3 separate regions of the Homo sapiens genome follow, and regions 1 and 3 are each reported to be linked to region 2. Evidence: microRNA targets listed by miRTarBase, many of them from high-throughput screens and not tested one by one. Region 2 holds a microRNA gene; each other region holds the end of a gene's coding sequence.
The links. The annotated mature microRNA hsa-miR-6839-3p reads UUGGGUUUUCUCUUCAAUCCAG and lies in region 2 at 2,220-2,241, opposite strand. An mRNA with a match to its seed (bases 2 to 7 or 8) in the 3' UTR can be bound and repressed. Matches are read on the target gene's strand: a 7mer-m8 pairs with bases 2 to 8, a 7mer-A1 pairs with bases 2 to 7 and ends in A, and an 8mer does both.

Region 1: the mRNA of RSRC2 is a reported target of hsa-miR-6839-3p. Seed matches in the 3' UTR shown: 7mer-m8 at 1,023-1,029.
Region 3: the mRNA of PTMA is a reported target of hsa-miR-6839-3p. Seed matches in the 3' UTR shown: 7mer-A1 at 760-766.

Annotation. Positions count from the first base shown.
Region 1 is chr12:122,502,162-122,506,367 of GRCh38, reverse strand. RSRC2 (arginine and serine rich coiled-coil 2) reads left to right here. Exons shown (of 10, transcript NM_023012.6): 10 at 662-2,914. The coding sequence ends at 841. Among named protein-coding and RNA genes, the nearest start is that of ZCCHC8, 3.3 kb to the right of the region's middle. RefSeq lists a silencer at 2,099-2,299.
Region 2 is chr7:64,677,190-64,681,395 of GRCh38, reverse strand. MIR6839 (microRNA 6839) reads right to left here and starts at 2,332; the gene lies at 2,220-2,332. The region is part of intron 1 of ZNF107 (zinc finger protein 107); the gene reads right to left. It also overlaps the pseudogene BNIP3P11.
Region 3 is chr2:231,712,257-231,716,462 of GRCh38, forward strand. PTMA (prothymosin alpha) reads left to right here. Exons shown (of 5, transcript NM_002823.5): 4 at 187-260; 5 at 548-1,295. The coding sequence ends at 595. MIR1244-1 (microRNA 1244-1) reads left to right here and starts at 1,058; the gene lies at 1,058-1,142. RefSeq lists enhancers at 1-443, 2,246-2,405, 2,415-2,944, 2,945-3,474, 3,036-3,275 and 1 more and a silencer at 2,463-2,757.

The DNA of each region.
Region 1 (4,206 bases), not on the chromosome of region 2:
CTTTTGTTACACCCTGCTATATTCCAGACCTAGAAAGAACATTGCCTTGTCCTTTGGAGGTGTTCAATAATGAATGGAAATTAAGTTATTGAGATCAAATACATATCCCAAAAGTATATTTTTGTTTGTTTGTTTTTTGTTTTTAGTATAGACGGGGTTTCACCATGTTGGCCAGGCTAGTCTCGAAATCCTGACCTCAGGTGATCCACCCGTCTCAGCCTCCCAAAGTGCTGGGATTACAGGCGTGAGCCACACTGCACCCGGCCAAAAGTATAATTTAATAGTGTCAGCCTAGTTCACACCTGTAATCCCAACACTTCGGGAGGCCGGGGGGCAGGCGGCAGGGGGGATCCCTGAGGTCAGGAGTTCGAGACCAGCCTGACCAATGTGGTGAAACCCCGTCTCTACTGAAAATACAAAAATTAGCTGGGCGTGGTGGCATGTGCCTCTAATCCCAGCTATTTGGGAGGCTGAGGCATAAGAATTACTTAAACCCAGGAGGCAGAGGTTGCAGTGAGCCGAGATGGCACCACTGCACTCCAGACGGGACAACAGAGCAAGACTCCATCTCAAAAAAAAAAAATACATAAAAAATAGTGTCAAGTGAGAGAATATTTATCTCCATCTGAATTCATTGTAATGTTTTATGTCTGATTTTTAGAGTGAAGATGAAGCTGGATGTAGCTCAGTTGATGAAGAAAGTTACAAGACTCTGAAGCAGCAGGAAGAAGTATTTCGAAATTTAGATGCTCAGTATGAAATGGCAAGATCACAAACCCACACACAAAGAGGAATGGGTTTGGGTTTCACATCTTCAATGCGAGGAATGGATGCAGTTTGAAAATGATCACACTTGTAAAGTTTGGGACTTATAGACTTCTTGTTCTGATGTCACGTCCTTGTTCACCAAACAGCTAGCACTCTAGCTTGCATGGGTGTTGCATTGACTTTAATTTATTGAAAAATACAAATTTTTGTAAATATCAGATCAGTGATACTGGTGTTAGTGTTGTAATCAGGTTAAACCCACTTCCATTAAACTTGACAGGACTATAGAAGGATAATATTTTTTAGTTCATGAATTCTACTTTTCAAATATATAAAAGCTGCAGGTGGGGATAAAATCTCATACATGGATTTTTTCGTGTCCGCTGTCTTGTGTACTTTTGTACTTAACCTTGTACAGTTATTTTCATCTCTTGAAACATGAAAGAAATGTTATGTAGATGTTCTTTAGAAGATCTGGCCATTTGGTACATAATCCAGCACAGATAAGCTGGGTGGTAATGATAATAAAAATGGTTTTCTCAAAACTGGTGTTAATTTAAGTTACCTGGGATGTTTCTTTGAATTTGTTTTATAGTTTCTGTAGCATTTGGCAATTGCTGTTAGAAAACACTAGCTAGAAATCCCCTCCCCACCACCCTTTTTAAGGCCAGTTAACTATACTACAGTCAATACCGTGGTGAGCAAAAATGTAAAAGGTGGAAGGAGAAAACTTACTAAAATAGTATGTTTTCCTATTATAAGGGACAGACTTGGTATTCAGTATTTGTCAAATATTACATGTGTTATTCAGGAGATAGATTAATGCATTAAAGGGATGTAAGCACTTTTATTTTAATAAAGTGCCTTATAACAAGTTCTTTGCATGCTTTTTGCTCATTATCCCTTTGAAGTCTTCTCCAGCATAGACTATAAAATATTAAAATATTAGAAATTTTTTTTGTTTGTTTTTTTGAGACAGGATCTTGCTCTGTTGCCTAAACTGGGTGCAGTGGCACAATCTCGGCTCACTGCCAGAGCCTCTGCCCCCCAGGTTCAAGCAATTCTCCCACCTCCACCTCCCATGTAACTGGGATTACAGGCGTACCACCGCACCCAGCTAATTTTTGTATTTTTAGTAGAGGTGGGGTTTTACCATGTTGGCCAGGCTGGTCCTGAACTCCTGACCTCAGGTGATCCACCCTCCTCAGCCTCCCAAAGTGCCGGGATTATAGGCGTGAGCCACTGCAGCCAGCCTAGAAAATGTTTTGTTACTAGATTGAACATAAATCTGGAGCCAAGGGGTGGGGGGGGCCTGCAAAACTTGAAGTTAATTTACTTCAGTTACAGCAAAGTAATAAGGTTTGGCTTTCCTTTGAAAAATCCTTTGGAAAACATCACAGAATGAGAGCACATTACAATCAGGGAAGACTACAGGAATAAGATTGACAGCCTTATTTTAAAAGCTGGAATTAAGTCTTGCCAACTTGCTCATTAGGTATTTTTTTTATACATGAAAATGAAGTAATGGGGTGTTTTCTTTTTTTTTGCTTTCTGTCCTAGGCTGGAGTGCAGTGCATTGCAGCAGGCTCCCCCAGGCTCAAGCAGTCCTCCCACCTCAGCCTCTTGAGTACCTGGGACCACAGGTGCTCACCAACACACCTAGCTTGTTTTTAATTTTTTATAAAGACAAGGTCTTGTTACGTTGCCCAGGTTGGTCTTGAATTCCTGGCCTCAAGCAATCCTCCCACCTCAGGGCTCCCAAAGTGATGGGGTTACAGGTGTGATCCACTTCACCTAGCCAGATTGTAAGATTTTTAATGTACTTTAATAAACCTTTCATTTTCCCAGAGCACAGAAATTCTATGGCAAAATGGCTTTTCACCGTGTTTCAGTGACAAATCTAAGCCTTCTAAGGAAATGACACTATGGATCCTTCATTTCGTGATCATCAACATTTTTCAATTAAGCTCTGCCTTTTTAAATCAATCTTATTAAAAATGTTCATGACCTTCTAAGGCAGTGTGGACGCAAAAGCTTCCTGTGTGTCTACAGTTATTTTAGGAGCTGACCATACATGATGAGTGATACAGCCTGTACTTTGCTCATCTAGAGCAGCACTGTCCAATAAAATATGTGTGTATATGTATATTGGTCCAAGTGATCTTCCCACCTCACTCCCCTGAGTAGCTGGCACCAAAGGCCCATGACAATGTACCTGAGATGGGGTTCTCAGGCTGTTGGCCAGGCTGGTCTCCCACTCTTGGCCTCAAATGATCTGCATCATCTCAGCCTCCCAAAGTGCTACCTGGGATTCAGGTGTGAAGCCACAGTGCCTGGCCTAAGTATTTTATTTCAATTTCTTTTTTGAGTAGCCAAATGCAAATAATTAAAAGATGAAATTACAGTTGTCCCTTGAACACATGGGTTTGAACTTTAGGGTCCACTTACATGCAGAATTTTTTTTTCTTTTTTTCTTTTTTTTTTTTTTGTGAGAGACTCTTTTGCCCAGGCTGGAGTGCAGTTGCATGATCCTAGCTCACTGCAACCTTTGTCTCCTGGGTTCAAGCAATTTTCCTGCCTCAGCCTCCTGAGTAATTGGAATTACAGGCACCCGCCACCACGCCCGGCTAATTTTTGTATTTTTCGTAGAGACGGGGTTTCACTATGTCAGCTAGGCTGGTCTTGAACTCCCGGGTTACACCATGTTGGCCAGGCTGGTCTTGAACTCCTGACCTCATGATCCACCCGCCTGGGCCTCCCAAAGTGCTGGGATTACAGGCGTGAGCCACCACGCCAGGCCTCATGCAGATTTTTCAGTGAAAGTAAACCTGGGAGGCGGAGGTTGCAGTGAGCCGAGATCATGCCACTGCACTCCAGCCTGGGTGACACAGTGAGACTCTGTCTCAAAAAATAAAATTTCAAAAAAAAAAAATTTAAATGGCCAGGCACAGTGGGTCATTCCTGTAATCCCAGTATTTAGGGAGGCAGAGGCAGGAGGATAGCTTTAGCTCAGAAGTTCAAGACCTACCTGGGCAATATAGGGAGATCCTGTTGTCCACAAAAAGAAAAAAAAAATGTTAAAATGTGTAAGTGACTTCCCAATGTTGTAAACGGAAAGAGGCTTCCTTAAGGGCCTTTGAGCACTGACCTAGCAGTGTTCCAACCTCATCTTGCTCCACTCTGCCTTTTCACTCAACATGGTGGTCCTTACACCTAAGACACTCTTCCATCCTCCCACCCCCAACTTTGCCGATCCTTAAAGTCTCACTTCCTCACTTTACTGACTCCCACAGACTAGGGTGTTTGTTAAATATTCATAACTTCCTGTGTTTTTCACCTTTTTTTTTTTTTTTTTTTTTTTGAGACAGAGTCTTGCTCTGTCGCCCAAGCTGGAGTGCAGTGGCACGATTTCGGCTCACTGCAACCTCTGCCTCCCGG
Region 2 (4,206 bases):
GGAGTGCAAAAAGGAGTGCTGATCTAGTTGACACACAAGTGGAGTCTGGAGAGGTCTGGAGGCTTTGCCGTCAATTCCCACAACAGTCATGGAGGCTAGGGAGACAGGTCCCTGAAAGGAGGGCAGGGTGGAGTGAGTGGCCCCCATATCGATCAAAAAGGGGATGGACTTACCCTCCACCTTAAGAGTTACCCGAGGTCCATGATGGTCCATGGGGCCTCCGAGGTGTTCGGGCAGTGTCATTCCTCAGCCGCCAAGCCGAGGAGATCAGAGAAGGAGTCAGCCAGGGGGCTGTGGGGTTAAGCTCCAGGAGCTCTAGGGATGGCAGCTTGAGTTGGACAGTCTGACTTCCAGTGAGGGCCTGCACAAACAGGGCATGGCTTAGGAGGAACCCCAGGCTGCAGGCATTCCTTGGCCCAGTGACTATTTTTATGGCACTTGAAGCATGGCCCTGGAGGGGCTGCTGGGCGCTGCGGTCTGGATGCCTTGAAATCCCTACAGGCCATTGGTGTGGCTGGGGTTCGTCTTACGGCGGAGGCAAGCATCTGTAATTCAGAAACACGCTGCCACCAGGTAGCCTCTTCCCTGTTACTGAACACCTTAAAGGCAAGGTTAATTAAATCCTGTTGTGGGGTTTGAGGGCCAGACTCTAATTTTTGAAGTTTTTTTCTAATGTCGGGAGCTGACTGGGTAATAAAATGCATGAGTCGGCCTTCTGGCCCCTGGCCCTTCAGGGTCTAAAGCTGGATTTATGGCCAGATGGGCCACAAACTGGGCTGGATTTTCGTCCTTGCCCTGAGTGATTTCTTTTAACTTATCATAATTGACAGCCTTATACGCAGCTTTTTGGAGTCCCTCTACTAAGCAAGTGATCATATAATCTCGCCCGGCCATACCAGGAGATCCTGTTTGATAGTTCCACTGGGGGTCCTCACGGGGGACCTCCCTGGAGACCTGGCTCAAGGCGCCAGTGGTCACCTGCATAGGACTGAGCTAGGGCCCAAACACCCTCCCATTCTTCAGGAGTGAGTGTAGAAGTGAGGATGACATTTAAGTCACTCCAGGTGAGGTTATAAGACTGAGTTAAATATTGAAATTCCTGGATATATTTAGTGGAGTCTTATGGAAAAGAACCTAAACACTGGCTGACCTGAGACAGGTCAGACAGGGAGAAAGAAACATGAACTCGGACTATCCCTTCAGCTCCAGCCACCTCTCAAAGGGGAAATAGTGGGGTGGGAGGAGGGGGATTAGAAGTGGGACCAAATTGTCAGCCAGTTCGGGTATGGGGCAGAGTAGGGACAGAAGGGATATAGGGAGGCATGGTATGGGTAGAAGGGGGACTGGGGTCTGGAGAAGGGTTGGGACCGGAGTCGGACGGGCAGGGAGGAGAAATATCGGAAGGGTCTGTGGACAAGAAGGACTCGCTGTCGCCAGAGGGTGGTAGGGGAGCAGATGGGCGGGACAGAAGGAGAATTTGAGACAAATTGCATTGGGAACAAGGGCTGGGGAGGGACCGAAGTGTAAAACATGCCTGGATGTATGGAACCTCAAACCATTTGCCCATTTTGTGACAAAAGTTGTCTAAGTCCCACAAAATAGAGAAATTGAAAGTGCCATTTTCTGGCCACTGAGAGCCACTGTCTAATTTATATTGGGGCCAGGCCATATTACAGAAGAAAATGAGATGTTTAGGTTCCAAATCAGGTGAAAGACGGAGCGGTTTTAGATTCCTAAGGACACAGTCCAAAGGACAAGGAGGAGGAATGGAGGGTGGAAGGGTGCCCATAATGAACAGCGGAGGACTGAAGAAACAGAGAGACAGGGAGAGAGAAACGAGGAGGAGAGCAACCACAAGGACCTTCAGCAGGTGTCCCCATCTGGGTTGTGCAGTGGATGAGTGGCCAAGGCACATGTCCCTGTGGTTGACCAGTCACCTAGGGAAGCCTGTCTTCCCAGAGATAATCCATGACCAATGTTAGATTTAGGAAACACAGACAGTGAGTGTCCTCTCCTCTCTAAGAAAAGGAAAGTTTGAGAAAGGATGGAGGTCTCTTACCTATCCGAAGGCAGAGGCGGGGCTTTTACAGAGCTGGTCCGAGGTACCGAGGTCGCGGGTGGGTCTCTTCAAGAAGTCGGGGGAAGGGGTTAAGGGACACGACTCCCAAAGGAGTTCCCCTATCCCGGATTTCAGCATCAAATGTGTGTTATGGCACAGTCTGGATTGAAGAGAAAACCCAAGCAGGCTTCGTGTGAGCTCGCACCCAAGTGAATAAATAGCCTCACTGCTCACACAAAGCCTGCTTGGGTCGTCTCTTCAATCCAGACTACACCATAACACAAAGTAAGGTTCCTCTTTCATCTCTGCTGCTCTCTTATCTTCTAGCCATTGAATGGGAGATCTATACTGGAATATGCCTGACAATTTCCACCAAAACATTTTGATGAACAATTGGAATATGACTTTGTTAATATAGTGGAATATATTTGAGCTTGCATCATGGCTAAGTGAAGAGCTATTATGGTTTTTGAGTGGCCACATCACCCTTATTTGTCTTGTAATAGCAGCATTCCAATTTAGTGAAATAAAAGACACTAAAATCATGCTTCCCTAATATTATCTCTATTGAATAAACTAGTAAGCATATCATACTAATATCTACTATAATAATTTGGTAGTAAATTTTCTTTCACATTGGATAAAATACCTAAGTATAAATAATTTTAGTGTACTAGTCATAATGTATGTAGGATTTTAAAATATTGTCTGTAACCATAATTCAATTAAAACACTTTATGTTTTGAAAGTATGAATAACAATACTAAAATGACTAAGGGATTCATTCAAAGTAAATATTGTGGCCTTACATTTATACTAGTGTAGAAAATACTGTTCAATTGATATGAATGCAGTTTGTCTACAAATGCTACACCTAACTATGCTAATTGTTCTGAAGTAATAAATAGAAACCAAAGAACAACTACATACTCCACTGTTCGGTTCATACACTGAACCTCGCTTTTGCAATGGAAGTATTTTAGCCTGCAAATATTAGATAATTACGTTGGATAATCCATTTTCTGTCAAAGGAATTTACTCAGCATTTTTTAGTCCTCATTATTCAGTACTGCTAAATTTAATACTATCTTTGTGCTCAACTTTTGTGTGCTCTTAAAATGAGTTTTGATTTAAACAAATCTGTGTCTACTTTAAAAGATTAAAAAATTTTAAAAAATTTGCCAAAGCAAAAACAAAGCAATAAACCTGAGGTCTCAGATAAAGACAATCCCAAATCAAGAACAATGACCAAAAATTTATTTAGCTGTTAATATAATTTATGTATCGTTCAAAACAACAAAGACAAAAATCTATGTATAATTTAAATCCTTTAAGAAAAAAGAGATTAGCAAAATATCCTCCCTTATTTTTCACATAGGAGAATAAAGCCTCTTATTTCTAATTTTTATTTTCTCCTACAACAGACAGGTCTCTGGACATGTTTTTGAACTCCTGGACATCCTTTTTTTTTTTTTTTTTTTTTTTGAGACAGAGTCTTGCTCTGTCGCCCAGGCTGGAGTGCAGTGGCTTGATCTTGGCTCACTGCAAGCCCCGCCTTGCGGGTTCACACCATTCTCCTGCCTCAGCCTCCCAAGTAGCTGGGTCTATAGGCACCCACTACCACGCCCATCTAATTTTTGTATTTTTAGTAGAGACAGGGTTTCACCGTGTTAGCCAGGATGGTCTCGATCTCCTGATCTCATGATCCGCCCGCCTCGGCCTCCCAAAGTGCTGGGATTACAGGCGTGAGCCACCACGCCTAGCCGAACTCTTGGACATCTTAATTTTGCACACTGTATGCAACTGAAAGAATGTTATCAGAAAAAAAAATAGAAGAGAGAAAGGTGTTATAAAAAAAAAAATCCGGCGAGGTGCGGTGGCTCATGCCTGTAATCCCAGCACTTTGAGAGGCCAAGGCGGGTGGATCACCTAAGGTCATGAGTTCGAGACCAGCCTGACCAACATGGCAAAACCCCGTCTCTACTAAAAATACAAAAATTTGCCAGGCATGGTGATGCATGCCTGTAATCCCAGCTACTTGGGAAGCTGAGGCAGGTGAATGGCTTGAACCTGGGAGATGGAGGTTGCAGTGAGCCAAAATCATGCCACTGCACTCCAGCCTGGGCAACAAGAGTGAAACTCCATCT
Region 3 (4,206 bases), not on the chromosome of region 2:
GCTGCTTGGGCCTCTCTCCTCTGGAGAGTCCCACCTGTGTAGTGGGCGTGGGTGCCCTGATTGGGCCCAGTTGCAGGCAGTAGAGGCAGGGCAGGGACCTTGCAGTCCACTACATGTTCCTCGGGATTTCCCCAGGAGCCACAGTAGGAGGGAAGTGTGGTTTACCTGGCCTTTGATTCTCTCCAGGTGAGGAAGAGGATGGAGATGAAGATGAGGAAGCTGAGTCAGCTACGGGCAAGCGGGCAGCTGAAGATGATGAGGTGGGTTCTGGCTTGAGAAGAAGGGGGGTTTGGCATCTGGGTCTCCCCACCTGCCTTTAGCTGAGGTGCTCAAGCTGCGGAGGGACTGTTTCTGACTTTGTAGGTGGCCACTGTGTGGTCCTGAATCTTAAGAACAGGAAGGAAACAGGGCTGGGCTCAACTTCCCAGAGGCCTTGGGCTGTGGAGCTGGGGGTCCCTGGTTCTTGCTCTGCCAGCAGGAGCTGAGGCAGTGGGCTGGATAGGGCTCCTGGGGTTGGAGGGGCCTTTGACAGTCTTTCTCTGCTTAGGATGACGATGTCGATACCAAGAAGCAGAAGACCGACGAGGATGACTAGACAGCAAAAAAGGAAAAGTTAAACTAAAAAAAAAAAGGCCGCCGTGACCTATTCACCCTCCACTTCCCGTCTCAGAATCTAAACGTGGTCACCTTCGAGTAGAGAGGCCCGCCCGCCCACCGTGGGCAGTGCCACCCGCAGATGACACGCGCTCTCCACCACCCAACCCAAACCATGAGAATTTGCAACAGGGGAGGAAAAAAGAACCAAAACTTCCAAGGCCCTGCTTTTTTTCTTAAAAGTACTTTAAAAAGGAAATTTGTTTGTATTTTTTATTTACATTTTATATTTTTGTACATATTGTTAGGGTCAGCCATTTTTAATGATCTCGGATGACCAAACCAGCCTTCGGAGCGTTCTCTGTCCTACTTCTGACTTTACTTGTGGTGTGACCATGTTCATTATAATCTCAAAGGAGAAAAAAAACCTTGTAAAAAAAGCAAAAATGACAACAGAAAAACAATCTTATTCCGAGCATTCCAGTAACTTTTTTGTGTATGTACTTAGCTGTACTATAAGTAGTTGGTTTGTATGAGATGGTTAAAAAGGCCAAAGATAAAAGGTTTCTTTTTTTTTCCTTTTTTGTCTATGAAGTTGCTGTTTATTTTTTTTGGCCTGTTTGATGTATGTGTGAAACAATGTTGTCCAACAATAAACAGGAATTTTATTTTGCTGAGTTGTTCTAACAAAGCTGTCTCAAGCCTGGTTTTTCTGTTTCAGTTTCTTCAGACCTTCCAGGGCACAAGGATAGGAGGGGGAGGATCCTGGGGACAGTGGGTTGACATTTTGGGAGGCAGTTGGATGTGTCCTGTGATGGGCAGCAGAGTCTGGTGGGTGGGCAGGGACTGAGCTGCAGTTGGCTGGGGGGGCTGCTCACTGGGGCAGTCAGTGATTGCCCCAAGAAGCCTTAACTGGGGAGGAGGACTTCATCACTGGGTGCCACATGGGGACCCTGGTGCCCTGGGGGTGGGGGTTTGCAGTCCTAGACACTGGAAACGGGCCACACGGGACTGCCATTATGTGGAGCGCAGGGTGCTGGTGGTATAGGCCAAGAGGGAACTTGCCAAGCCTCCCAGGATGAGCGTCCAAGTGGTGGCTGCCTCTGCAGGCCTCACAGGTTTAGCTCCATGACGTGGCTCCCCCTGCTGGTGGCACGTGGTACCCCCCGGCCTCTTAGAATGCCGGGGTTTTGGTTTGGCACTGGTGCAGCCTGGCAGTCATCCAACCTTTGGTCTCCAGGTCCCTTAGGTTAGTTGGGCAGGCCCACCCTGCCCCTTGAACACAGTTGGAGAAGTTACTGTGCCGTTTGGATATTCATACACGGGCTGTGAGCAGTGGGTCAGGATAGCCAACTGGAGGAAGTGCCACCAGCTCGTGCCCTCAGAGGTGGAGGTAAGGATTAGAGCTCACCTAGAACCTTCTGGGATCCTCCAATGAGAGCTGCAGGGGCAGGGGCCGGTATAGGCACTGCTAGTGGGCCTGTTGCCCAGGTAGGACCTGAGGAAGCCATCCAGTGGTATCTGCAGGAAAACTCCCAGGAGCAGACTGAAGTGTCTGCAGAGGCCTGGCCTGGGTTAAGGGGAGATGCTGGGAAGGAGGGAAATGTGTGCATTGAAGAGAGCAAGAGAGACCAGTTCCCTCTACCTGCCCCTTGACACCGTGTCCACCCCATTCCATGCCCCCCCGACCTTTGTGTTTCACACCAGGCACCAGAGTTCTGGGGGGACCTTTCCCTTCTCTGGCTGGAGCTTAGTCACTCTCATGGGGCTGCTCAGGCCGCTTGTTCAGCATGTCCCCAGGCAGCTGCCACCAGGATCGGGGGCAGGTTGAGGCCTTGGTAGGAGGGACCCTCTGACCTGTATCTACCCCACACCCCCTGCACAGCCTGGGTATCTGCATCCTGGCTCATCCAGGGAAGAAAGGGAGGGTCTGGAGCCAAAACGCTGGCTCCTCTCTGTTCTGCCGCCCAAGGCGACTCAGTACTGCAGTGTTCCCAAGCTCGGCGCCCAGGAGGGTGTCTCTAAGGCAGGAGTGCAGGCGAAGGCCGTGAAGGAAGGCCACACAGGGCAGGTAGCGCTTGGAGCTGAGAGCAGATCTAACCCAGCTCCCTCAGGCTGCAGTCCTGCTCGGGACCACTACCGCAAGGCCCCTGAAAGGGGAGAAGCTGTGCCCTGGTCCGCACACAGACACGGCAGGCATGTTAGCATGAGGCAAGTAACTGAACCTTGTGGGCTTCAATCCCCTCCTCTGCAAAATGGGAACAATAGGATGAGGCATGAGCCAGGGCCCAGGGCTGCCTTGCTAGGGTCCCCCTGAGACACCCATATCAGCAGAGCTTACTGCCTCTGCTGTCTGAGCTGCCTCATCCCACCAAAGGTTTGGCCTGGAACAGCATTTGCTGGTTCTAGCAGAACACACTTACCCCTAGTCCTGAGCCTAGCACACAATTAACCACTGCCTGAGGATATACCTCAGGGCCCAGAGTCACCTTGATACCACTCCCAAAGTCCCCGAATGACCTCCCACTGGAGCCCAGGTTAAAAGATTATCAAGGAATGGGCGCCCCCTGGTGGACACAGAGGAACTGTAAAGCGTGCCGCTGAATTCTGTCCAGGAAAGACCCTTCAGTGGGCCCTGGTCCCAAGGTAGGCAACGCCAGTCACCCTCCACCTGACTCCCGCAACAAGACCTTTCTCCCTCTCTGTTGCTGGAACCCCAGTCAGATGTGACAGTCAGTGGTCATTTCCCAGACCTTCCTTCTGGGCAACTGATGCCCTCTCCCAAGGACTGAGTCCTTTACGTGGAACCAAAGCTGGAAGCAGGGGTCCACTCTTCCACGGTCTTGGGCTTCCCTGTGGCCACACACACCCTCACTGGACTCCACGCACCCTCACTGGACTCCATGCACCCTCACTGGACTCCATGCACCCTCACTGGACTCCATGCACCCTCACTCACTGGACTCCATACTGCCTCAGCAGACTCCACACTCTCTCACTGGACTCCCTGCTCCCTCACTCACTGGACTCCACGCACCCTCACTCACTGGACTCCACGCACCCTCACTGGACTCCACGCACCCTTACTCACTGGACTCCACACATCTTCACTGGACTCCACACATCCTCAGTGGACTCCACACATTCTCACTGGACTCTACAGACCCTCACTGGACTCCACGCTCCCTCACTGGACTCCACACTCCTTCACTGGACTCCACACACCCTCACTGGGACTGCTGCCCTGAGTACAAACTAGGAGAGTTTGAATGGGGGGTGTTCACTAGAATGACTAGAATGACTCAGTCACTAGAATGGGGGGCGGGGAGTCAGGGGCTCCCAGCTCTACTTCCTGGCTTTATCTTGGCTGTTGGCTACACAGCCCCAGGAATCAGTACTGCTTCTCCTCTACTGCTATCACAAGCCCTGGGGTCAGGATCCTCAGCCTCTGGCCCTTCCTAACTCCTCCCAGATCTCAGTCCCTCCAGGGCCCTGCTGCCTACCCTGCCTCTACCAAGCCTGCGGGTTGGATGCCTGTGTCCTAGATACAGGCCAGCCCTGCCTGCCTCAGGGCGCTGGCTGCTGCGTGGTCCCCTCCTGGTGGGAGCTGCT